Linked DNA regions of Homo sapiens. The protein of the gene in region 4 interacts with the protein of the main gene of each other region in a pairwise test. Each region holds a gene or a part of one and is shown on either strand. Other genes may lie near its edges. The genes, in order: FAM114A2, FAM114A1, HIP1, RAB2B, VRTN, GARIN4 and TXNDC11.

The links.
Region 1: the proteins of RAB2B (region 4) and FAM114A2 interact in binary tests that used the Homo sapiens proteins (3 or more experiments, as listed by UniProt).
Region 2: the proteins of RAB2B (region 4) and FAM114A1 interact in binary tests that used the Homo sapiens proteins (3 or more experiments, as listed by UniProt).
Region 3: the proteins of RAB2B (region 4) and HIP1 interact in binary tests that used the Homo sapiens proteins (3 or more experiments, as listed by UniProt).
Region 5: the proteins of RAB2B (region 4) and VRTN interact in binary tests that used the Homo sapiens proteins (3 or more experiments, as listed by UniProt).
Region 6: the proteins of RAB2B (region 4) and GARIN4 interact in binary tests that used the Homo sapiens proteins (3 or more experiments, as listed by UniProt).
Region 7: the proteins of RAB2B (region 4) and TXNDC11 interact in binary tests that used the Homo sapiens proteins (3 or more experiments, as listed by UniProt).

The regions. Positions count from the first base shown.
Region 1 is NC_000005.10:154,025,411-154,028,910, reverse strand, and holds part of FAM114A2 (protein FAM114A2), read left to right. Parts: intron 1-627; coding exon 628-762; intron 763-1,576; coding exon 1,577-1,735; intron 1,736-2,388; coding exon 2,389-2,512; intron 2,513-3,500.
Region 2 is NC_000004.12:38,874,306-38,877,805, reverse strand, and holds part of FAM114A1 (protein NOXP20), read right to left. Parts: intron 1-3,500. UniProt on the Homo sapiens protein: May play a role in neuronal cell development.
Region 3 is NC_000007.14:75,553,942-75,557,441, reverse strand, and holds part of HIP1 (huntingtin-interacting protein 1), read left to right. Parts: intron 1-630; coding exon 631-732; intron 733-1,272; coding exon 1,273-1,416; intron 1,417-1,890; coding exon 1,891-2,026; intron 2,027-2,915; coding exon 2,916-3,002; intron 3,003-3,221; coding exon 3,222-3,329; intron 3,330-3,500. UniProt on the Homo sapiens protein: Plays a role in clathrin-mediated endocytosis and trafficking. Involved in regulating AMPA receptor trafficking in the central nervous system in an NMDA-dependent manner. Regulates presynaptic nerve terminal activity.
Region 4 is NC_000014.9:21,466,960-21,470,459, reverse strand, and holds part of RAB2B (ras-related protein Rab-2B), read left to right. Parts: intron 1-1,243; exon of another isoform or gene 1,244-1,251; coding exon of another isoform or gene 1,252-1,274; intron 1,275-1,280; exon of another isoform or gene 1,281-1,367; coding exon of another isoform or gene 1,368-1,418; intron 1,419-1,707; coding exon 1,708-1,790; intron 1,791-2,010; coding exon 2,011-2,103; intron 2,104-3,500. UniProt on the Homo sapiens protein: The small GTPases Rab are key regulators of intracellular membrane trafficking, from the formation of transport vesicles to their fusion with membranes. Rabs cycle between active GTP-bound and inactive GDP-bound states.
Region 5 is NC_000014.9:74,354,971-74,358,470, forward strand, and holds part of VRTN (vertnin), read left to right. Parts: intron 1-1,812; 5' UTR 1,813-1,813; coding exon 1,814-3,500. UniProt on the Homo sapiens protein: Acts as a transcription factor that regulates development of thoracic vertebrae.
Region 6 is NC_000001.11:212,623,323-212,627,273, forward strand, and holds GARIN4 (Golgi-associated RAB2 interactor protein 4), read left to right. Parts: upstream 1-1,151; 5' UTR 1,152-1,555; coding exon 1,556-3,340; 3' UTR 3,341-3,453; downstream 3,454-3,951. UniProt on the Homo sapiens protein: RAB2B effector protein required for the compacted Golgi morphology, probably through interaction with small GTPase RAB2B.
Region 7 is NC_000016.10:11,678,583-11,681,220, reverse strand, and holds the end of TXNDC11 (thioredoxin domain-containing protein 11), read left to right. Parts: intron 1-1,383; coding exon 1,384-2,026; 3' UTR 2,027-2,138; downstream 2,139-2,638. UniProt on the Homo sapiens protein: May act as a redox regulator involved in DUOX proteins folding. The interaction with DUOX1 and DUOX2 suggest that it belongs to a multiprotein complex constituting the thyroid H(2)O(2) generating system.

The DNA.
Region 1 (3,500 bases), on a different chromosome or scaffold from region 4:
CAGATCTCCCCACCATCTTGTGTCCTCTCCCAGTTTTCTGTGTCTTCTGCTCTCCCCCTCTCCTGCACCAAGATAACCATAATCCTGACTTCCACCATCATAGGTTAATTTTGCCTGCATTTCAGCTTTACATAAGTGGAATCATATATAGTATCTAACTTCTTTCATGCAACATTATATTTGTATAATTTACCTATGCTGCAGTTTGTGTGGTAGATTTGATTTTCTTTGTTGTATTTCATTGTGAAGCTTTGTCACGTTTTATTTATTCATTCCACAGTTGGTGAGCATTGGGGTAGTTTTCAGTTTGTAGCTATTACAAGCAGAGCTGTTATGAACATTTTTGTGCATGTCTTCTGATGAACCTCTGTACTTATTTCTGTTAGGATGTAACCATGAGTGGAATTTCTGGGTCATGCAGCTGGAGTAGATATTGACAAACAGTTTTCTAATGTGGTTATACCTATTTACGTTCCCACAAGCAGTGTGTGATTGTTTCATTTGCTTTACATTCTTGCCAGTGCTTGGTATTGTTAGCCACTATTTTTATATAATAAATACATAATAAAAATGCATAAAAATATGTTTTCTTAATATTGTTGTAATGAGGTTGCATGTATTTTCTAGGGAAAGAGTGTTATAAGTGGGGGTTTGGATGCCTTAGAATTCATTGGAAAAAAGACAATGGATGTGATAGCAGAAGGGGATCCTGGATTTAAAAGAACCAAGGGTCTGATGAACCGAAATGCTACACTATCTCAGGTACTGATTATCCTTACCTGTTTACTTCCTGTTTCTGTTTTGATCTGTATTTTTGCCTTTGTTTACTTGGAACCTTGTTAGTGTTTTCTTTTCAAGCATTTTCAATAATGTTTATTCAGGCGTTTTTTTGGGGGGATCAGGGATGGGTGAGAGCTCTACTGCTTACAAAAATACCCAGCTCTTTTTCTCCTCCTCTTTCTGCAGGAGCCTCCCATCAGTGCAGTGCAAAATGCTAAACCCTGTCAGGGTTTTTTGTTTGTTTGTTTGTTTGTTTTAATGTTTAAATCACTTTCAGAGAAACACCTGGTTCCTTGGGTGTGATTTGCACTGTCTAGGATCAAATTATGTGGTCAGGCACGGTGGCTCACGGCTGTAATACCAGCACTTTGGGAGGCCGAGGTAGGTGAATCAGTTGAGGTCAGGAGTACAAGATCAACCTGACCAACATGATGAAACCCCGTCTCTTCTAAAAATACCAAAATTAGCTGGACGTGGTGGCGTATGCCTATAATCCCAGCTACTTGGGAGGCTGAAACACGAGAATAGCTTAAACCCGAGAGGCAGAGGTTGCAGTGAGCAGAGATCGTGCCACTGCACTCCAGCCTGGGTGACAGAGTGAAACTCCGTCTCAAATTATGTGTGATCGTTTTTCTTTCTGCAGCTCCTGAGCCCACCAGATTTGAATAGCAGTGCCAAGAATGAAAGGGCAATCCTCTGTACTCTAACCTGTCTAAGCTTTGCTTCCTTCAATTCTCAGAACTCACCCTTGAGCTCTCATTGTTTGCTACAGTGTAATGCCTCCATCTCTTTTTAGGTTTTACGAGAGGCGAAGGAGAAAGAAGAGATACGGACCTCCAATGAGGTTACCGTGGAAACAGACAAGAAAACTCATTATGGGCTACTCTTTGATGAATTTCAAGGCCTTTCACATCTAGAAGCTCTGGAGATGCTTTCCCAAGAAAGTGAAATAAAGGTAATTCCAAGCCAAAATCTCAACTGGAAAAAGTCTTCAAGTAAAAGAATGCTGCATGGTTTCCTTTCTCTTTGTACATTTGGAAGATGAAGTGTATGTTTTGTTAGAGGCTTGAGATGCCTTCGAAATACTACCACAAAATAAATTTAAAAACTAATGTTTGATTGAACTAATTGCTAAAAGCAGAATTAGTCAAGTATTATTTCTTTAAATTTAAACAAAAAAGGTTAACAAAGAGGTCTTAATAGGACATGTGTTATTTTTCCTTCGTTTTGGTCTTTTTTTTTTTTTTTTAGTTTCTTTGGCCTAGGCTGCCAAGAAACCTGTTGACTTGAGCTGCCAATTTGTGTACAGTTACCTGTTAGCTTTTAATTGATTTAAGATTATCTAATTTTTTTGTTATTTCTAAGCTGTTGCTAAACACTGATAATTTCCAGGAATTTCTGGCTGGTATTACTTTTAGAAGCACAGAGTCTCCCTACCTTTCTGTCATAACCAGCCTCTTGTGTTAAGGTTCTTAAGGAATAACTTGTGCTGGCTGATGAGCTCATAATTTTGACTTCAATATGATCTTTTTATAGTCTCTTCCCTATTTGTGAATGTTTTTCTTTTCTTTCATACTCCTACAACATTTTGTTCTTGTATCCATTCAGGTGAAATCTATCCTTAATTCTCTGAGTGGAGAAGAATTAGAGACTCTAAAAGTTGAATTAGAGCAACTCAAAGAAACATTTTCTCTAGCAGAATTTTGTGAAGAAGAGGAAGAAGAGAAAAAAGGTAATATGAAAATTTAGTATCTGAGTGGAGAGGATGCAGTGTGTTTGTATGCAGTGCATTGCCCTTGAAATAAATTATTTACTCTTATTACACTGGCTTGATTTTACTTTTTTGGTGAAAATTTTTATGCAAATTCTCTGTGTAAAATTCTCTGCAGCCTTGCACCTGACTAGGCATTGATGGGGGCAGTTGGCCTTATGCCCATGTCTCCCTGCCTCCTTCCAACCAAACCCTTTGTGGCTTCTCAAGGTCTAATCTTGCAACTCACATCTTTGCCTATTTTTGCAGTTAGAAAGCTGTTCTCATCAGATTCTTGCCTCAGTTTGACTGGTCATTCATATGAGCTTTCATATTCCTAGGTACTTTACCTCTGCCTCTCTGACTCTTGTAACCCCTGATTCTGTCTTGAATTGAAGCATGCAGGATGGCAGTTATCTAAAATGTGGGTGATAGTTTGTCTTTTTTTATTTTGAAAACTCTTATACCATATTTTAATATCTTCATTTCTCAGAAAATGTAAATGTAGATACTATGTATATTTGCAAAATTATCAGGAAATGAGATGGGTCAGGAAATGAGATGGCTGACGTAAAGTATAATTGCCAGGCAACTGAATATTAAGTTCTAAGGGTTGTTTTATTGACATTTTAGCTGGAAATATTTCTAAGATATACACTAACTGACCTTTTTTTTTTAAAAAAGTGGAATCTAATGAATACAGTTTTGCCTTTTCTTCATGAAATAATCAGTTATAAACATTAAAAGTGAATGGAAAAATTCTCTCAGGTTTCATTAAGACATAGGGCCAATCACCCATGTAGTAGGTTAAATCAGTGATGAACAAAGTGTGGTCTGTAGACCCTTGAATTCCCAGAACCCTTTCAGGGAGTCTATGAGTCAGAACTCTGCATCATAATACTAAGATGTTGTCTACTTAGGAATTTTTTAAAAATTATAATGAGTTTTTTTTCTGCTTTGGCATTTGTGC
Region 2 (3,500 bases), on a different chromosome or scaffold from region 4:
TTTAGTAGAAACGGGGTTTTTCCATGTTGGTCAGGCTGGTCTCGAACTCCCGACCTCAGGTGATCCACCCACCTTGGCCTCCCGAAGTGCTGGGATTACAGGCGTGAGCCACCGCGCCCGGCCAGGGCAAACTTTTTTTTAACCAATACTCTATGTAACCTTGTGGGTCCCCAACCCTGCATTATTCCTTGTACCAGTCCATGGCCTGTTAGGAACCAAGCTGCACAGCAGTGGGTGAGTGGCAGGTGAGTGAGCACAGCTTCCTCTGTATTTACAGCTGCTCCCCATCGCTCGCATTACCACCTGAACTCCGCCTCCTATCAGATCAGTGGTGGCATTAGATTCTCATAGGAGCATGAACCCTATTGTGAACTGCACGTGTGAGGGATCTAGGCTGTGCACTCCTTATGAGAATCTAATGCCTGATGATCTGTCTCCCATCATCCCCAGGTGGGAGCATCTAGTTGCAGGGAAACAAGCTCAGGGCTCCCACTGATTCTACCTTGTGGTGAGTTGTATAATTATTTCATTATAAATTACAACGTAATAATAATAGAAATAAAGTGCACAATAGTAATGTGCTTGAATCATCCCAAAAGCATCTCCCCCGCACCCCTTTCTGCTGATCTGTGGGAAAATTGTCTTCCACAAAACTAGTTCCTGGTGCCAAAAAGGTTGGGGACTGCTGGAATAATGAATGGCCCCCAAGATAACCACATCCCAATTCCTGGAACCTGTGAGTGTTACCTTACATAACAAAAGGGACCTTGCAGATGTGAGTAAGATAAGGATCTTGAGATGAGGGGATTATTTTAGATCATCTGAGTTGGCCTTAAATGTAATCACAAGTGTCCTTATCATATGGAGGCAGAGGGAGATTTGATTACAAAGAGGAAAAGGTGATGTGATGACAGAAGCAGAGGCTGGAGTGACGCACTTCAAAGATAAAGGAAGGGGCCCAAAGCCAAGGAATATGGGTGGCCACCAGAAGCTGAAAAGGGAAAAGAAACCACTCTCCCCTCAAAGACTCTAGAAGGAATCAGGCTGCCAGCAACTTGACTTTAGCCCATGGACACTGATTTCAGACTTCTGACCTCCAGAACTCCAAGAGAATAAGTCTGTGTTGGCAAAAGCCGTGAAGTTAGTTGTAATTTGTCACAGCACTGATAGGAAGCTAACAGAAACCTACAGGGCTATCTTTAAACTTTCCTGGAGCTCTTACTTGGCATGAAAGACTACGCCTATGGGAACTAAGAGTAATACCTGTATCTTTAAAATTATTGACTCTGGCTTTATTAATTATATTTGTAGCAATAATGAGAATAAGCATAGGAAGGCAGGGTGCAATGGCTCACACCTGTAATCCCAGCACTTTGGTAGGCTGAGGTGGGTGAATCACATGAGGCCAGGAGTTCAAGACCAGCCAAGGCCAACATGGTGAAACCCTGTCTCTACTAAAAATACAAAAATTAGCTGGGCATGGTGGCATGCACCTGTAGTCCCAGCTACTTAGGAGGCTGAGGCACAATAATTGCTTGAACCTGGGGGGTGGAGGTTGCAGTGAGCTGAGATCGTGTCACTGCACTCCAGCCTGGGCGACAAAGCGAGACCGTCTCAAAAAAAAAAAAAAAAAAAAGAAAAAAGAATAAGTCTAGAAAATACCTGAGCACTTATCAAAAAAAATACTTGCCATTTAGCTTTGTAACATCTTTGTCAGAAATTCACAGTGAGAAAGAGACCTATACACACACAGTATTCCTTGTTGGGGACCAGCTGATGAAGGTCTAGACCATGGTTTAGTCAAGGATAAACTTAAAGGGTAAGAAGTGAGGTAGAAACCAAATAAGGAATGTAGCCATTAAAGCAGAAAACTCTTTTAAAGCTTACAAATTATTGATATCATGTAGAACAGCACTATTCAATGGAACTTTCGGTGGTGATAAAAATGTTCTGTCTCAACAAACTAAGCATTGAAGGAACATATCTCAAAGTAATAAGAGCCTTTTATGACAAACCCACAGCTAACATCATACCGAAGGGGCAAAAACTGGAAGCATTCCCCTTAGGAACCAGAACAAGACGAGGATACCCACTCTTACTACTTCTATTCAACACAATAGTGGAAGTCCTAGCCAGAGCAATCAGACAAGAGAACGAAATAAAATAGGAAGAGAGGAAGACAAACTATCTTTGCAGATGATATGATTCTACACCTAGAAAATCCCATAGTCTCTGCCCAAAGGCTCCTAGATCTGATAAACAACTTCAGCAAAGTTTCAAGATACAAAATCAATGTACAAAAATCAGTAGCATTTCTATACACCAATAATGTCCAAGCTGACGGTGAAATCAAGAATGCAATTCCATTCACAATAGCCACAAAAAGAACAAAATACGTAGGAATACAGCTAATCAGGGAGATGAAAGAGCTCCACAATGAGAATTACAAAACAATGCTCAAAGAAATCAGAGATGACACAAATGGAAAAATTTTCCATGCTCATGGATAGGAAGAATCATTATTGTTAAAATGGCCATACTACCCAAAGCAATGTACAGATTCAATGCTATTCTTATCAAACTACCAATGATGTTTTTCATAGAATTAGAAAAAAATATTCTAAAATTCATGTGGAACCAAAAAAGGGCCCAAATAGACAAAGCATTCCTAAGCAAAAAGAACAAAGCTGGAGACATCACACTACCCAACTTCAAACTATACTACAAGGTTATAGTAACCAAAACACCATGGTACTGGCACAAAAATAAAACACATAAGCCAACAGAACAGAATAGAGAACTCTGAAATAAAGCCACACACCTAAACCATCTGATCTTTGACAAAGCCAACAATGACAAACAATGGGGAACGGACTCCCTATTCAATAAATTGTGCTGGGATAACTGGCCAGCCATATGCAGAAGATTGAAACTGTTCCCCTTCCTTATACCATATACAAAAATAAACTCAAGATGGACTAAAGACTTAAATGTAAAACCCAAAACTATAAAAACTCTAGAAGAAAACCTAGGAACATAGGAAACACTATCCTGGATATCGGCCCTGGCAAAGATTTCATGACAAAGACTCCAAAAGCAATTGCAGCAAAAACAAAAATTGACAAGTGGGAGCTAATTAAACAAAAGAGCTTCTACACAGCAAAAGAAACTACCAACAGAATAAATAGACAACTTACATAATGGCAGAAAATATTTGCAACTATGCATGTGACAAAGGTCTAATATCCAGAATCTGTAAGGAACTTAAATCAACAAGCAAAAAACAAAACAAAAACCATTAAAAAATGGGCAAATGACATAAATAGGTACTTCTCAAAAGAAAACATATAGGTGGCCAACAAGCATATGAAAAAATGCACACCACCACTAATCATTAGAGAAATGCAAATAAAAACCATAATGAGACACCATCTCACACATAGATTTTCCCAATAACTCAGAGCTGTCATTTACCACGCTTTCACCCTCTCAAGAATATA
Region 3 (3,500 bases), on a different chromosome or scaffold from region 4:
ACAAAGGCTTTCCAAGGATGAGGCTGGTGGAGAGTTTGAGGAAAGGAAAACACATGGGTGGCAGAGAGAGAGGGATGAGCGTTTTTTTTTGTTTGTTTGTTTTGTTTGTTTGTTTTTTGAGACGGCAGTAATCCCAGGACTTTGGGAGGCTGAGGGGGGTGTGGATCACCAAGTCAGGAGTTCGAGACCAGCCTGGCCAATATGGTGAAACCCCATCTCTACTAAAAATACAAAAGTTAGCCAGGTGTGATGGCGTGTGCCCGTAGTCCCAGCTGCTTGGGAGGCTGAGGCACAAGAATCTCTTGAACCTTGGAGGTGGAGGTTGCAGTGAGCTGAGACTGCACCACTGCACTCCAGCCTGGGCAACAACAGCGAGACTCCGTCTCAAAAATAAATAAATAAATAAATAAATAAATAAATAATAAAAAATCCTTCCTTGACATTCCACATTTTCAGTACACTCTGGGGTCTTGCCTCCTCCTCCCACACCCTGCACTTTTTTGGGGGGGTGTAACTTACATACAGTAGAGTTTACAGATCTCTTGTTGATCGCTTGGGACGTTTTTACATTTTTATATTCTTTGTCACTGTCACCCAGATCAGAGTCCCTCTGTTTTTCTTCTCTTTCAGACTCAAGAACAGCTGGAAGTTCTAGAGAGCTTGAAGCAGGAACTTGCCACAAGCCAACGGGAGCTTCAGGTTCTGCAAGGCAGCCTGGAAACTTCTGCCCAGGTAAATACCTCCTTTTTTTTTTTGGAGATAGAGTCTTCTTCTGTCACTCAGGTTGGAATGCAGTGGTGCGATCGCAGCTCACTGCAGCCTCCACCTCCCTGGGCTCAGGTGATCCTCCCCACTTAGCCCCCCGAGTAACTGGGACTACAGGCACACACCCCTACACCTGGCTAGTTTTTGTATTTTCTTTGGTAGAGACGGGGTTTCACTATGTTGCCCAGGCTGGTCTCGAACTCCAGGGCTCAAGTGATCCTCCCACCTCAGCCTCCTAAAGTGCTGGGATTACAGACATGAGCCTTCATGCCCGGCCTCCTTTCTTGCCCCACCCCTGGCTTTGGCGTTGCTGTCATCCACCATCCTTGGCCTGGCCAAGTCAGCCCCCACTGCAATCAGTGTGTCCCCGGGAGGGAATCAGAGTGGCAGGTTAAAGAGCCATCACCTTCCCAGTCCTTGCAACCCGGTGGTGGGTTGGACCTCTGGGAAGTAGGGACTGTTTAACTCAACCAGCGTCTCCCTCTTTCCTTGTGGTCACCTTTGCAGTCAGAAGCAAACTGGGCAGCCGAGTTCGCCGAGCTAGAGAAGGAGCGGGACAGCCTGGTGAGTGGCGCAGCTCATAGGGAGGAGGAATTATCTGCTCTTCGGAAAGAACTGCAGGACACTCAGCTCAAACTGGCCAGCACAGAGGCAAGTCACGGACATGGACACGAGCGAGCACCTGTGAATTCCCACCGAGGGCCTCTGCGCATGCACGGAGGCTGGGAGGACCCCGGGGCTGCTGAGAAGGGGTTTGGGGCCTTGGCCTGATTGTGCAGACATTCTGTAGGTGTAATGCCAGCAGGCCCTGCATTGCCTGCAGAGTCCATGAGGGAAAGCAAACTGCTGTCTTTTTTGTATGAGAAGAGAAGTTTGGCATCTCCTCCCAGCCATGAGAAGCGGGCGCAGTGATCCATCCCCACAGCCTCTGTGGGCAGCCGCACATCGTGGGCAGCCGCACATCCTGTGCACACAGTTAAAGCGCCTTTCTCTGTCTCAGGCTTACTGGCTTGGACCTCATTGGCCATGACTTGAGCTAAGATGCTAAGAGCCCCAGCCAGGTCATCCTGCTCAGGTTCATTATGGAGTCTAGGGCAGACTCTCACCTCCCTGGACCATTTTTAGGAATCTATGTGCCAGCTTGCCAAAGACCAACGAAAAATGCTTCTGGTGGGGTCCAGGAAGGCTGCGGAGCAGGTGATACAAGACGCCCTGAACCAGCTTGAAGAACCTCCTCTCATCAGCTGCGCTGGGTCTGCAGGTACACTTGCAATTGCCCAGCTGGCAGGGGCCAGGTCCTTACAGCCTGAGACTCTGTTGATGTTGAATCTCATGTGAGACTTAGCTCAGGGGCTCTCAGCCCAGCAGCATGTCAGCATTACCTTAGGGGCGCCCAGGCCCCATCCTAGATCAGTTACATGTGGAAACTCTGTGCATTAGTGCCTATACACTAGTATTTTAGTATTTTCTTCCCCCCCCCCGCCCCCCCGCTTTTTGAGATAGGGTCTTACTCTGTTGCTCAGGCTAGAGTGCAGTGCCGTGGCTCACTGCAACCTCCGCTTCCTGGGCTCACACAATCCTCCCCACTCATTCTCCCAAGTAGCTGGGACTACAGGCACGCAACACCACGCCCAGCTAATTTTTGGTTTCGGTTTGTTGCTCAGACTGGTCTTGAAGACCTGGGCTCAGGCTATCCACCCACCTTGGCCTCCCAAAGTGCTGGGATTACAGGCATGAGCCACCATGCCTGGCCTTGGCTAATTTTTTAATTTTTGGTAGAGACGAGGTCTCACTCTATTGCCCAGGATGGTCCCAAACTTCTGAACTCCCACCTTGGCCTCTCAAAGTGCTGGAATTACAGGCATGAGACACCACGCCAGGCCCAGCAGTAGTATTTTCTAAAGCCCCCAGGTGTGATAGCTACTGCTTTAGACAGTGGGTCACACTGATAAAACACCCACCAGGAGCAGACAATTCTGTTTCTCTAAGGAAAAAACTATGGTCTGAATCAAGAGGTGATTACTCATGAACTTCACGTCTAGGCAGGAAGCTTACCCACTAGGTAAGCTCCTCCATTCAGTGCTTAATTAACGAGGATGAAGCCAGCTATGAGAACTTGCTCTGACCTTGCCCTGTGTTCCCTCTCACAGATCACCTCCTCTCCACGGTCACATCCATTTCCAGCTGCATCGAGCAACTGGAGAAAAGCTGGAGCCAGTATCTGGCCTGCCCAGAAGGTAAGAATGGCCAAGGACAGTCTCTGTCGGCTAGTGATGGCCAGACAGGGTTCAGAAGCACCTGAATGCGGGGATAGTGACAGGTCCCTCTGCATCAAGAAAGGCATGTAGGCAACTCATACAAGAAAGGCATGTAGGCAACTCATAAAACGGGAGGAGAGGGTATGAAAGTGTCACCATCAACCAGACCTGAGAAACTTCTCTTTCCAATCCTGGCAGACATCAGTGGACTTCTCCATTCCATAACCCTGCTGGCCCACTTGACCAGCGACGCCATTGCTCATGGTGCCACCACCTGCCTCAGAGCCCCACCTGAGCCTGCCGACTGTGAGTACCGGGGCATGAGGGGCTGTTCATGGACCAGGGGAGCAGGGGGCCTTTAAAAGTCTCTGTTGGGCCGGGCGCAGTGGCTCATGCCTGTAACTCCAGCACTTTGGGAGGCTGAGGCGGGCAGATCACTTGAGGTCGGGAGTTCAAGAACAGCCTGGCCAACATGGC
Region 4 (3,500 bases):
GAGTTAGTATACTGGAATTCTCTTCTCACCTACAAACCCCAGTTTAGGTTATATGATATAGTGGCTAAGAGGACAAGTTTTTGTCCTAGGAAGTACTAAGATCCTAAGTTTAAATTATGGCTCTAGCACTTAATAAGCTTTATGATTTGGGGCCGTTTATTAAACTTGTGTGAGCCTCATTTTCCCCATTTTTAAAAGGAAATAATAAGCCAGGCACGGTGGCTCATGCCTGTAATCCCAGCACTTTGGGAGGCCGAGGCGGGTGGGTCATGAGGTCAGGAGTTCAAGACCAGCCTAGCCAACATAGTGAAAACCCATCTCTACCAAAAATACAAAAAAATTAGCCAGGCATGGTGGTGGGCGCCTGTAATCCCAGCTAATTGGGAGGCTGAAGCAAGGAGAATTGCTTGAACCTGGGAGGCGGAGGTTGCAGTGAGCCAAGATTGCGCCACTGCACTCCAGCCCGGGCAACAGAGCGAGACTCCCTCTCAAAAAAAAAAAGAAAAAAAAAAAGGGAATAATAATATCGGCCCCAGGGTTGCTAAGAGAAGTAAATGAAATAATATATGTAATTGTCTCTTAAAGTTCGTAGCACATTTTATATGCCAAAAAGTAGTTTATAGTACTATTGCAGTGTTATAATTAGTGTTACCACTGTTACTGGTATTATACTATGAGAAAGCCATTTATTTTCCCACATCCTTAATCATGATTCTCCCATTTGTAACCTATAAATTATAGTCTTACCTCCTGTTATGTAGGGATGTAAGGATAAATTATTTCAAGAATGTGAAAACTTTCTTAATAGGATAGATTCAATGTACAGGGTATTCATATTATTTAAAAAATGTTTTTGTTTTCCCTAAAGGAAAAAAAAAGAACTAGTCCATCAAGAAAGCAAAAGTACCCAGTATTATGGGGGCATTAATAAATTACTCAGTTTTAAATAGAACTTAATATCTTTGTCCAACTGGAAATGAGATTAGAGTGTGAACATTTGGATTTTTCTAGGAAAACTCTATGCTGGGCCCTGGGCTTCTTTCTCTGTTTGTTATTCCTATTTCCCATGACAGAAGCCCAGCAAGGGACATCTAGGTAGTCTTGCATTATCAGTGGAACACTAAAGGTCAGTTAGAAGATAATCAGTTGAAGTGCTTTTAATCTAATTTTTATATTGATTCATTGGAATGAAATTTCTATTAGACCAGGTTTTGGCATTCTAAGATAACTTTCCTTTTTACAGATAAAGAAATGGGAACAGAAAGATTAATATGGTGTGTTCAATATCATATTTGGGATTGAAAAAAATGACATACACTCCGTTTCCAGTCCTATTTCCAGTTGTTCTTTTATGAGGATATTGGGAAATGTATGCAAATGTCTTCATCGTCTTTATCGTGCTGACTGGGGTGCCACAGGTATTTAGTGACTGGGATCTAGGATGCTAAACATCCACTAATCTGATGGACAGTCTCTCAGGAAGAGTAAGTGACTGCCCAAAATATCAATGCACTCCCATAGAAAAATATTGATTTCCCACTTGGGTTTCTTCTCGGGCAGGCATGTTTTCTTTCCCTAATTCTCTTTTCGTAATAGAAATTCTTTTTTTAGTTAAGTCCTTTGTATTAGGGTGGCATGTGATCAAGTCGGTTCTGTGGAAATAACCTGGTTTTGTTGGGATTTTTTGTTGCCATGTTGGTGGGAAAGGCTGGGCAAGAATCCTTCCGTTCTATCACCCGTTCCTACTACAGGGGAGCAGCTGGAGCACTGCTGGTGTACGACATTACAAGGTGAGCCAGATCTGGTGCATGGGAGGGAGATTCTTCCCTAAATCCTCTAAAGCTTTTTTTTTTTTTCTATCTACTGATTCTGTTAAGGATGTTAACTAGGAATGGCCTCTCTAATATTTTTCTTTACACGTATGGCTTCCCCTCTTTTCGTATACGCTTGGAGTTGTTTTGGCCTTTTGAAATGTGTCTCTGACCCACATTCTAAATTTTTCTGCTGTAGGCGTGAAACCTTCAACCACCTGACCTCATGGTTAGAGGATGCCCGGCAGCACTCTAGTTCCAACATGGTTATCATGCTCATTGGGAATAAGAGGTAAAATTGTATCCATGTGAATAATAGTTAACAGGAGTCATCTAGGTACTCTATGCACATTGATCCCCAAACTTTCTCAGTTTATAGTGGTCTTAGTGTTTCAGTAAAAAAAAAAAATTTTGTTGTGATAAAATATATATGACACAAAATTTACCATTTTAACTATTTTTAAGCATACAGTCCTGTAGCATTAAGAATATCCATTGTTCCACAGCCATCACCAACATCCATCTCCAGAACTTTTTCATCTTCTCAAACTCTATACACATTCAACACTAACTCTCCATCTTCCCTCCCCCATCCCCCTCATCCCTCAGCCCCTGACAGCCATCATTCTACTTTATGAATTTGACTACTACTGGTACCTCATACAAGTAGACTCATGTAATATTTGTGCTTTTGTGACTGGCTTATTTCACTTAGCATAATGTCTTCGAGGTTTATCCATATTGTAGCATGTGTCAGAATTTCCTTCCTTTTTAAAGATGAGTAATATTCATTGTATGCATATACCACAATATTTTGTTTATCCATCTGTCCATGGACACTTGGGTTGCTGCCATCCTTTGACTATTGTGAATAATGCTGCTATGAACATGGATCTGTTCAAGTCCCAGCTCTGAATTCTTTTGGGTATATGCCCAGAAGTGGGATTGCTGGATCATATGGTAATTCTTTTATTTTTTGAAGAACCACCATACCATTTTCCATAGCAGCTGTCTCATTTTACATTCTTTCCAGCAATGTACAAGGATTCCAGTTTCTCTACATCCTTAACAACACTGGTTATTATCAGTAAATTTTTTTTGACACCCATAGGCCAAAAGAAATACCTAATAGTTTTGTTAAATAGTTATACCCAAACAACATGAGTATTTTTTATAACCGCTTAGTAACTGTTTGAAAATAAAAAGGCCAGGCGCAGTGGCGTATGCCTGTAATCCCAGCTCTGGAAGGATTGCTTGAGTCCATAAGTTCAAGACCAGCCTGGGCAACATAGTGAGACCTTGTTTATACAAAAAAATTTTTAAATGAGGTGGGAGGATCACTTGGGCCTGTGAGGTCGAGGCTGCAATGAAGCTGTAATTGTACCACTGCACTCCTGCCTCAGCAACAGGAGTGAGACCCTATATAAAAAAAAGAAAAAATATGCCAGGCGTGGTGGCTCAAGCCCGTAATCCTAGCACTTTGGGAGGCCGAGGTGGGTAGATTAGAAAGTCAGGAGTTCAAGACCAGCCTGGCCAATATGGTGAAACCCCGTCTGTACTGAAAAAATACAAAAAGTAGCCAGGCGTGGTGGCACGCACCTCTAGTCCCAGCTATTTGGGAGCTTGAGGCAGGAGAATTGCTTGAACTCGGGAGGCGGAGGTTGCAGTGAGCTGAGATAGTGCCACTGC
Region 5 (3,500 bases), about 53 Mb from region 4:
GTCTCTACTAAAATTACAAAAATTAGCTGGGCATGGTGGCATGCGCCTGTAATCCCAGCTACTCGGGTGGCTGAGGCAGGCAAATCTCTTGAACCCGGGAGGTAGAGGTTGCAGCCAGTTGAGATTGCGCCCCTGCACTCCAGCCTGGGTGACAGAACGAGACTCAGTCTCAAAAAAAAAAAAAAAAAAAATTGTCACCACTGATCTCATCAGAAAAATTGAGATTTTCAGATGGAAGCTGATAAGTTTTTATGGGCAGCAAATAGTTGTTTCCCTTGAAATTACAGTCTCACTTCATTCATTTTTGAGAAAATATCTGCCAAATATATCCAAATCTGAATGACCAGTGTCTATTAGACTTTCTTTCAAGTAAAAATTGTATATCATGCTAAAGGGAGCTAATTTATCAGAAAAGCAGAACAATCATCCAATGGAGACATTCATCATACCTCGGGTTGCAGCAAGCGTGTTATAAGTATGCCCCATTTGATTACACCCAGTATTGAAAACGACATGTACTTAAGGATAACGGTTTTCTTTCTTTTCTTTAAAAAAAAAATAGCATCATTTATTTATTTATTTGAGACAGAGTCTCGGTCTGTCACCCATGCTTGAGCACAGTGGCATGATCTCTACTCAGTGCGGCCTCCACCTCCCAAGTTCAAGTGATTCTCGTGCCTCAGCCTCCTGAGTAGCTGAGATTACAGGTGCATTCCACCATGCCTGGCTAACTTTTTTTTTTGTATTTTTAGTAGCAATGGGGTTTCACTATGTTGGCCAGGCTGGCCTCAAACTCCTGACCTTAAGTGATCTGCCTGCCTCAGCCTCCCAAAGTGCATGAGCCACTGCACCTGGCCTCTCTCTTTTTTTTTTTTTCTGAGACAGAGTCTCATTCCTGTCACCCTGGCTGGAGTGCAGTGGTGCGAGCATTGCTCACTGCAGCCTCGGATTCCCAGGCTCAGATGATCCTCCTGCCTCAGCCTCCCAAGTAGCCGGGACTATAGGCACATGCCACTGTGCCCAGCTAATTTTTGTATTTTTTGTAGAGATGGGGTTTTGCCATGTTGCTCAGGCTGGTCTTGAACTCCTGGACTCAAGCAGTCCACCCACCTCAGCCTCCCAAAGTGCTAAGATTACAGGCATGAGCCACCACGCCCAGCCAACATCTCTTTATTGTCTCATTTATGCCCAGAACAACTCAAGCATATTTTATTAATTTTTTTTTCCCTTTTGGAGACAGTCTCACTTTGTTGCCCAGGCTGGAGTGCAGTGGCTCTAACTCAGCTCACTGCAACCTCTGCCTCCTGGGTTTAAGTGATTCTTCTGCCCTAGCCTCCAGAGTAGCTGGGATTACAGGCTCTTGCCACTATGCCTGGCAAATTTTTGTATTTTTAGTAGAGATGGGGTTTCACCATGTTGGCCAGGCTGGTCTCGAACTCCTGCCCTCAAGTGATTCATCTGCCTTGGCCTCCCAAAGTGCTAGGATTACAGGTGTAAGCCACCGTGCCTGGCCTATAAAGCAGATTTTAACACACCATTCCCATTTTATAGAAAATGAACAGAAGCATAGAGAGGTTAAGTGATCCAAGGTGACCAAGCTTATGTCAGAGCCAGGATTCAAAGCCAGGTTCTAGAGACCACACTTTTCCTCAGTACCATTCAGTGATGAACCAATCCCGTCTGTTGTGGGAGGACGGGAGCAGATAGACATTACCTTTTGGGAGAAAGTGCAGGAGTGGACAGGGCACCTTTGCTAGTCATCATCTGGGCACTTCGACCTGACTACTGCCCCTTTATCTTTTGCCCTGGCAGGATGACTTCTCGGAACCAGCTGGTGCAGAAGGTGCTGCAGGAGCTGCAGGAAGCAGTGGAGTGCGAAGGCCTGGAGGGTCTCATAGGTGCTTCCTTGGAGGCCAAGCAGGTCCTGTCTTCCTTCACTCTCCCCACCTGCCGGGAGGGAGGCCCTGGCCTCCAGGTGCTGGAAGTGGACTCGGTGGCCCTGAGCCTGTATCCAGAAGATGCTCCACGGAACATGCTGCCGCTGGTGTGCAAGGGGGAGGGCAGCCTGCTGTTCGAGGCGGCCAGCATGCTGCTGTGGGGTGACGCAGGCCTCAGCCTGGAGCTGCGGGCCCGCACCGTGGTAGAGATGCTGCTGCACAGACACTACTACCTCCAGGGCATGATCGACTCCAAAGTGATGCTGCAGGCCGTGCGCTACTCCCTATGCTCTGAGGAGTCCCCTGAGATGACCAGCTTGCCCCCCGCCACGCTGGAGGCCATCTTCGATGCCGACGTCAAGGCCTCCTGTTTCCCCAGCAGCTTCTCCAACGTGTGGCACTTGTATGCTCTCGCCTCTGTCCTCCAGCGGAACATCTACTCCATCTACCCCATGCGCAACCTCAAGATCCGGCCCTACTTCAACCGTGTCATCCGGCCCCGCCGCTGCGACCACGTGCCCTCCACGCTGCACATCATGTGGGCTGGCCAGCCCCTCACCAGCCACTTCTTCCGCCACCAGTACTTTGCCCCTGTGGTGGGGCTGGAAGAGGTGGAGGCTGAAGGTGCCCCTGGCGTGGCCCCAGCTCTTCCAGCCCTGGCCCCACTCTCATCGCCGGCCAAGACCCTGGAGCTGCTCAACCGTGAACCTGGCCTCAGCTACTCTCACCTCTGTGAGCGCTACAGCGTCACCAAAAGCACCTTCTACCGCTGGCGGCGGCAGTCCCAGGAGCACCGGCAGAAGGTTGCTGCCCGCTTCTCCGCCAAGCACTTCCTGCAGGACAGCTTCCACCGGGGGGGCGTCGTGCCACTTCAGCAGTTCCTCCAGCGGTTCCCGGAGATCTCCCGCTCAACCTACTATGCCTGGAAGCATGAGCTGCTGGGCTCTGGCACCTGCCCGGCCTTGCCCCCCAGGGAGGTGCTGGGCATGGAGGAGCTAGAGAAGCTGCCGGAGGAGCAGGTGGCTGAGGAGGAGCTGGAGTGCTCCGCACTGGCGGTGTCAAGCCCTGGAATGGTCTTAATGCAGCGGGCCAAGTTGTACCTGGAGCATTGCATCTCCCTGAACACACTGGTACCCTATCGCTGCTTCAAACGCAGGTTCCCTGGCATCTCACGGTCCACTTATTATAATTGGCGGCGAAAGGCCCTCCGGAGGAACCCCAGCTTCAAGCCGGCACCAGCCCTCTCTGCTGCTGGGACTCCCCAGCTAGCATCTGTTGGGGAAGGGGCTGTAATTCCTTGGAAGAGTGAGGCGGAAGAGGGGGCAGGGAATGCCACAGGTGAGGACCCTCCCGCCCCCGGGGAGCTCCTGCCACTAAGGATGCCCCTGTCCCGTTGGCAGAGGCGTCTGCGCAGGGCTGCCCGCAGGCAGGTGCTGAGTGGGCATCTCCCTTTCTGCCGCTTCCGCCTCCGCTACCCCAGCCTGTCACCTTCTGCCTTTTGGGTCTGGAAGAGTCTTGCTCGGGGTTGGCCCAGAGGCCTGTCCAAACTTCAGGTGCCGGTCC
Region 6 (3,951 bases), on a different chromosome or scaffold from region 4:
GCTGGGAGAAAAGAGAGTTGGAAGCAGGTGCTCCTTTTCAGGACTTCCAGGTAACAGCTTGGAAATTACTTATTCCTGGGCTCGCTCTGTGGGCATGGCAAGGCAGGAGGTATAGTAGCACCTGTTCCCCATGGATGTAAATGGCTTCCAAAGTACTTCTGCATAGTAGAGAGGTTAGTAGAGGAGGGCCTTTGATAGGCTCCTGGAATGTAAGCTCACACTTTCCATCCTACCCTCTTCTCCCGGCATTTCACAGGGTAGGGGGTAAGAAGAGGCACGGGGCAAACACTGGGGGCCTTGAGAAAATATTTGGGCTCCCTGACACAGGATGTTGGTATAAACATGATGGAGGAGAAATAGAGGTGGCCCCTTGGATAATTTAATCCCCCACTCAGCCCAGCCCCTTTCTGAAGTGGTTGTCCTGGATTCTCCATAACATGCATGCATACACACACACACACACACACACACACACAGAATTAATTATGCAACTTATTTGGCTTGCCCAAGCTTTTTTTGTAAGTTCTGTAGTGGTTCAGAAGGAAGATTTTAAAAGCAGCAAGACCTGTATTCAAATAATACCTCCACTGCCTACGAGTTCTACAAATGCAGGTATGTTTCACAACTTCAGGTTTTTTTTACCTGTAAGATGAGAAGCGTTGCAATAGTATCAAACTGGAATGGAGTTTGATACATAGTATGGCGCCTAGAAGAAGCAATCTCTCATGTTATTATTAAAGGTTGAGGTTATTACTAAAGATTTCCATTGTCAGCATGAACTGAGATTTTATGGAAGAGTGGGCTAAGAACCAAGACTGCGAATTCTAGGTTAAAAAAAAATTTAAACCGTGTACTCAAATGGTTCAAATTTATCCCATCATCTTGCGTTCCTGTAGACTCTGCCTAGTTGCTGAATCTTTTGAATTTGGGGTGAGGAAGGGGAAGCAACCACACATTTTCTCATTTGAAAAATTTTTATTTTGGCACCCACTTGAGTACCTGGCACGGTGGGGCTGTCCTCTATGGGGGCAATGGAGTATTAGTGAGGGCATTGTGGCCCTGGCCTGGGGGATGAGAACAAAGGGGTATGTGACAGCAACAGGTCACAAAGGGAAGCAGAAGATAAATATGGCTGCACAGGGGGTTTAGGCAGAGAGGGTCGTCACTTCCTGTCACTAGGACTACAGTTTGTAGTCTCTCTCAGGGAGAGAGACTACAAACTGTAATTAAAAAAATCAGAGGTGGAGGTCAGGGGGTTAGGTCCAGAAGAAAACCTCTCTGGAGCCCACCCTGCATCTCTACGTCTTGGAAGAGTCTGGAGTCCAGGCACCCTACAGCACCCCCCACAGCAATCATCCGTGCTCCCACCCCCACCCCGGCCTCTGGGAGGCTCTGAGGCAACAGTGGGGGCCTGTGGGGTGGGGTGGGATTGAGAGACCAGCTGCAGAGACATCTTTGTGACCCAGGAGCACCACTGGTCCCTCATCTGCCACCGAGGCCAAGGAAGACCCAGAGACCTGCCTCACCAGTGCTGCCGTTGTGCTGAAAGACAACCATGAATGCTGATTTTCTGCTGCCGTATTATACGGCCCAGAGTGGCTCCAGCATGAGCATGTTCAACACCACCATGGGGAAACTGCAGCGACAACTGTACAAGGGGGAGTACGATATATTCAAGTATGCACCGATATTTGAGAGCGACTTTATCCAGATCACCAAAAGGGGAGAAGTGATTGATGTGCACAACCGTGTCCGTATGGTGACCATGGGCATTGCACGTACCAGCCCCATCCTCCCACTCCCAGATGTCATGCTACTGGCACGACCGGCCACCGGCTGCGAAGAGTATGCTGGACATGGCCAGGCCACCAAGAGAAAAAAACGCAAGGCAGCAAAGAACTTAGAGCTCACCAGGCTTCTGCCCCTGAGGTTTGTACGGATCTCTGTTCAAGACCATGAGAAACAACAGCTGCGCCTGAAGTTCGCCACTGGCAGATCTTGCTATCTGCAATTGTGTCCCGCTCTTGACACACGGGATGACCTCTTTGCCTATTGGGAAAAACTAATTTACCTCTTGCGGCCACCCATGGAGAGTAACAGCAGTACCTGTGGCATTCCAGCTGAAGACATGATGTGGATGCCTGTGTTTCAGGAAGACAGGAGGAGCCTGGGAGCCGTGAACCTTCAAGGAAAGGGGGATCAGGACCAGGTCAGCATCCAAAGCCTCCACATGGTCTCTGAGGTGTGTGGGGCCACCTCTGCTGCTTATGCTGGAGGGGAGGGACTCCAAAATGACTTTAACAAACCCACTAATGTGCTCAATGCATCCATCCCCAAAACATCTACAGAACTTGCTGAGGAGCCAGCAACAGGGGGGATTAAAGAGGCAGCAGCAGCAGGGGCAGCTGCAGGGGCAGCAACAGGCACCGTAGCAGGTGCCTTGAGTGTGGCAGCAGCCAATTCTGCCCCTGGACAGGTGAGCGCAGCCATAGCTGGGGCGGCCACCATCGGTGCAGGAGGAAACAAAGGCAACATGGCCCTTGCAGGCACTGCCAGCATGGCTCCAAACAGCACGAAGGTGGCTGTGGCAGGGGCTGCAGGCAAGTCCTCAGAGCATGTTTCCAGCGCATCCATGAGCCTTTCCCGAGAGGGCAGTGTGAGCCTGGCCATTGCAGGAGTAGTACTGACCAGCAGGACAGCTGCAGAAGCAGACATGGATGCAGCAGCGGGACCTCCCGTCTCCACCCGGCAGAGCAAGAGCAGCCTGAGTGGACAGCATGGAAGGGAGCGAACCCAGGCCAGCGCTGAAGGCTGCAAGGAGGGGAGGGAAAGAAGGGAAAAGGACAGGGCTCTCGGAAGGAGTTCCCATCGCCGCAGGACAGGTGAAAGCCGCCACAAAACAAGGGGAGACAAGATTGCCCAAAAGTCCTCCAGCAGGTCCTCATTCAGCCACAGAGCCAATAGAGATGACAAAAAGGAGAAAGGCTGTGGCAACCCGGGGAGCAGCAGGCACAGGGACTCGCATAAAGGTGTCAGCCACACGCCCATCTCAAAGGAGTCCAGGACCTCTCACAAATCTGGGAGGAGCTTATGGACCACCAGTTCCGGTTCCAGCAAGGGACTTGGCAGGGTCAGCTCTTTCCTGAGGAACGTCAGAGCCAACCTTACTACAAAAGTAGTGGGCACACCACATGGCAGAGATGTGAACGTCATGGCTAAGATGGCGGAGAGGAGCACCAACGTGGCCATCGCCGAGACAGCAGAGGGTGGCCAGGGGCTGGAGACGGTTGGTTCTATGACACCGGACATCATGGAGACAGTGACCTTTGAAGCCCATTAAATAAGACCCAGAGCTGGAAGCTGCAAAGGAGCCCAGAGCTCATGGGAGTGTCCCTGGAAAGCCTATTCCAGCGTTCTTTACTGCCGTTTAAATAAAGAATCATACATCTGAAAGTGGCTTGCTGGCTGAATTTTTGTGTCCCACAGCCCAGCAGTGACCTCACAGTGGATTCTGTGATGTCAACTGTGCTGCAGCCTGAGACCCCAGGATCCAGTCAAGGGTAGCCCCACCTCACACCCATGCTCAGCAGAGCCCAGATGAGTGCTCCAGCTTTCCTCAACCCCTTCCTGGCTTTGGTTCGCCAGGACTATGGCTGAAAGTCAGGCTGGGAGCTTGAAGCTCTACCTCCACCATCTCCCCATCCTTTTTATAAACTTGCCCCCTCCCAACCCTGGAAAATCCAAAGACGAAGCAAGAACAGAACTCTCACCCCCTTGCACTATTCATAGGAGGGAGTAAGGGAGCAGCAGCATGTGTTGGCAACCAGAACAGGGAGGAGCATTGTCTAGACTTAGCAATTCCACCCCTAAGTATACTCCCAAGAAACACACATGTTGCAGGAGACAGCCATGAGAATGTTTGTAGCAAAATAATACTGGAAACTGCCTAAA
Region 7 (2,638 bases), on a different chromosome or scaffold from region 4:
GCCACGATGTGTTTTCAGTTGTTGTGGGGTTTTTTGGTTTTCTGTTTTTGAGACAAGGTCTGACTCTGTTGCCCAGGCTGGAGTGCAGTGGTGCAATTACGGCTCACTGCAGTCTTGAACTCCTGGACTCAAGTGATCCTCCCACCTCAGGCTCCTAAGTAGCTGGATCTACAGGTGTGTGCCACCTTGCCTGGCTAATTTTTTTATCTTACTTTTTATACAGATGAGGCCTTACTATATTGTCCAGGCTGGTCTCAAACTCCTGGCCTCAAGCGATCCTCCCACCTCAGCCTCCCAAAGCACTGGGATTACAGGCACACAGCACCACACCCAGCTTTGTCATTTGAATGGCTGGGCCCCACTTGAAGAAAGCTTATATGTTAAGAAAACTAAGCTTTAAAGGAGGGGATGGTTGAATGTTTACCCCAAAATTATAAAACAATTTACGGCCGGGTCCAGTGGCCCTGGGCAGCCAGGCTCTGGAGTCCCTGCTGTTGACTTCCATTCTGTTAACACCTGAGGGAGACAAACTCGGCTGCCGGCCCACCTCATACCTAAGTGCATAAAGCTGGTAGTTTTGATCAATTGCAGCCAGGCTGTACAGGCACAGGTAAATAGATATGTGAGAGAAACATCATCAGACGATTAAATGACAAGTTCTGAAGAGGAATTTTCTAGATCTCTAGATCAGGACCTGGAACAAAGCTGTAGGGAAAACCCCTTTCTATGTCACCTTCCTTCCTTATTCTGTGCTCTCAGGGCTGGGCAGCCTGAATTCATAGTCCTTTGGTTGGGCTGTTTGCCAGTTATCAGGTTGCCAGGTGTGAGCCAGATGTACCTGGGGAATGGGGGTACAGTCACCCCCAGTTGAGAACCCCTGCCTTAGAGAATGTGTAATAAATGCTTGCTGAAGAAACAGACTGGGTATCTTTCAAGTTCTTCCTTTTTCTCCGGGCACTGTCAGTGGGCACAAGAGGGACATAGGTGGGACACTCCTGCCTCCCCTGGACGCTCTTCCTGACACAGCCGCTGGGCATCTCCGAGCACACAGAGGCCCCATGCCTACACACTCCTGGGGCCCTGCATCACTGGCTTTAGGCCTGGGCCTAGGAGCTCTTGTCTTTCTTGGAGGGTGTGGGTGAAGCTGAGCTCTGGCTTCAGGAACAGATAAGCCATCTTAATTACAGAACGAGCATATGGGACAGCCTCAGCTTTGTAGAGAATTTCTTGCCCAGGCAACATTTTCCTTACTTTCAGTAAGTAAAATCCACGGAACGTCTTTTCTTGGTGAGAAGTAGATGGCCTGGCCTCAGGTACAGCCTGCTTTTGGACTCATTGTGTTGGTGTGACTCCTGTCTTTGCTTCCTTTCCCTCTCTCTCCAGAAAGGACCTAAGTGTGAAATACCCCGAAGACGTCCCCATCACCCTTCCAAACCTGTTGAGGTTCATTTTGCATCACTCAGACCCTGCTTCCAGCCCCCAGAATGTGGCTAACTCTCCTACCAAGGAGTGTCTTCAGAGCGAGGCAGTCTTACAGCGGGGGCACATCTCCCACTTGGAGAGAGAGATCCAGAAACTGAGAGCAGAAATAAGCAGCCTCCAGCGAGCACAAGTGCAGGTGGAGTCCCAGCTCTCCAGTGCCCGCAGAGATGAGCACCGGCTGCGGCAGCAGCAGCGGGCCCTGGAAGAGCAGCACAGCCTGCTCCACGCACACAGTGAGCAGCTGCAGGCCCTCTATGAGCAGAAGACACGTGAGCTGCAGGAGCTGGCCCGCAAGCTGCAGGAGCTGGCCGATGCCTCAGAAAACCTCCTTACCGAGAACACGTGGCTCAAGATCCTGGTGGCGACCATGGAGAGGAAACTGGAGGGCAGGGATGGAGCTGAAAGCCTGGCGGCCCAGAGAGAGGTCCACCCCAAGCAGCCTGAGCCCTCAGCCACCCCCCAGCTCCCTGGCAGCTCCCCTCCACCTGCCAATGTCAGCGCCACACTGGTGTCTGAAAGGAATAAGGAGAACAGGACAGACTAACTTTTTAAATGATATGAAGAAATCAGAGGTGAAAATTGTACATTGGGAATATATTTATGCAAATTTTATTGAAATTTATTGTAAATAAAGATTTTCTCAGTGGTCTAGAAAATCAGCTTGAATGTCATTCAGCATTTATTGAAGAAGGATGACATCCCTTCCACTTATTGCACAAACTTGGTAGCTTTGAGACAAATACAGTAGCACAGTCCGTTTGAAGATTTGTCCAAAAAATTAGTCCATATTTTAGTGGCTCAGTGTCAAGAGTTCCCTCCCTGTGCCCCCACTGTTGCTTCTGCAGTGATACGAAGGATGAATGCTTAATTTCTTATTAGTCAGAAAACTTGAATGCAACAGTTGGGCATTCAAAAATAATCCAGAGAGGTCATAACCTACTTAGCCATTTGAGTGTGGCTCTGGTGTCTGCTAAAAAAAGTAGCTATTGAAAAAACAGTGAGAGCTATGATGTGGTTCACTCATTCTAGAAGCATTTTCATTTTCCTCCCGAAAACCCCCCCAGTGCCTCACCGAGCCCCGGACCTTCACCCAACACGGCTGCCACGCTCAAATGGGCCTGATTCAAACTCCCAGGTACGTCCCTGGCACCAGGGA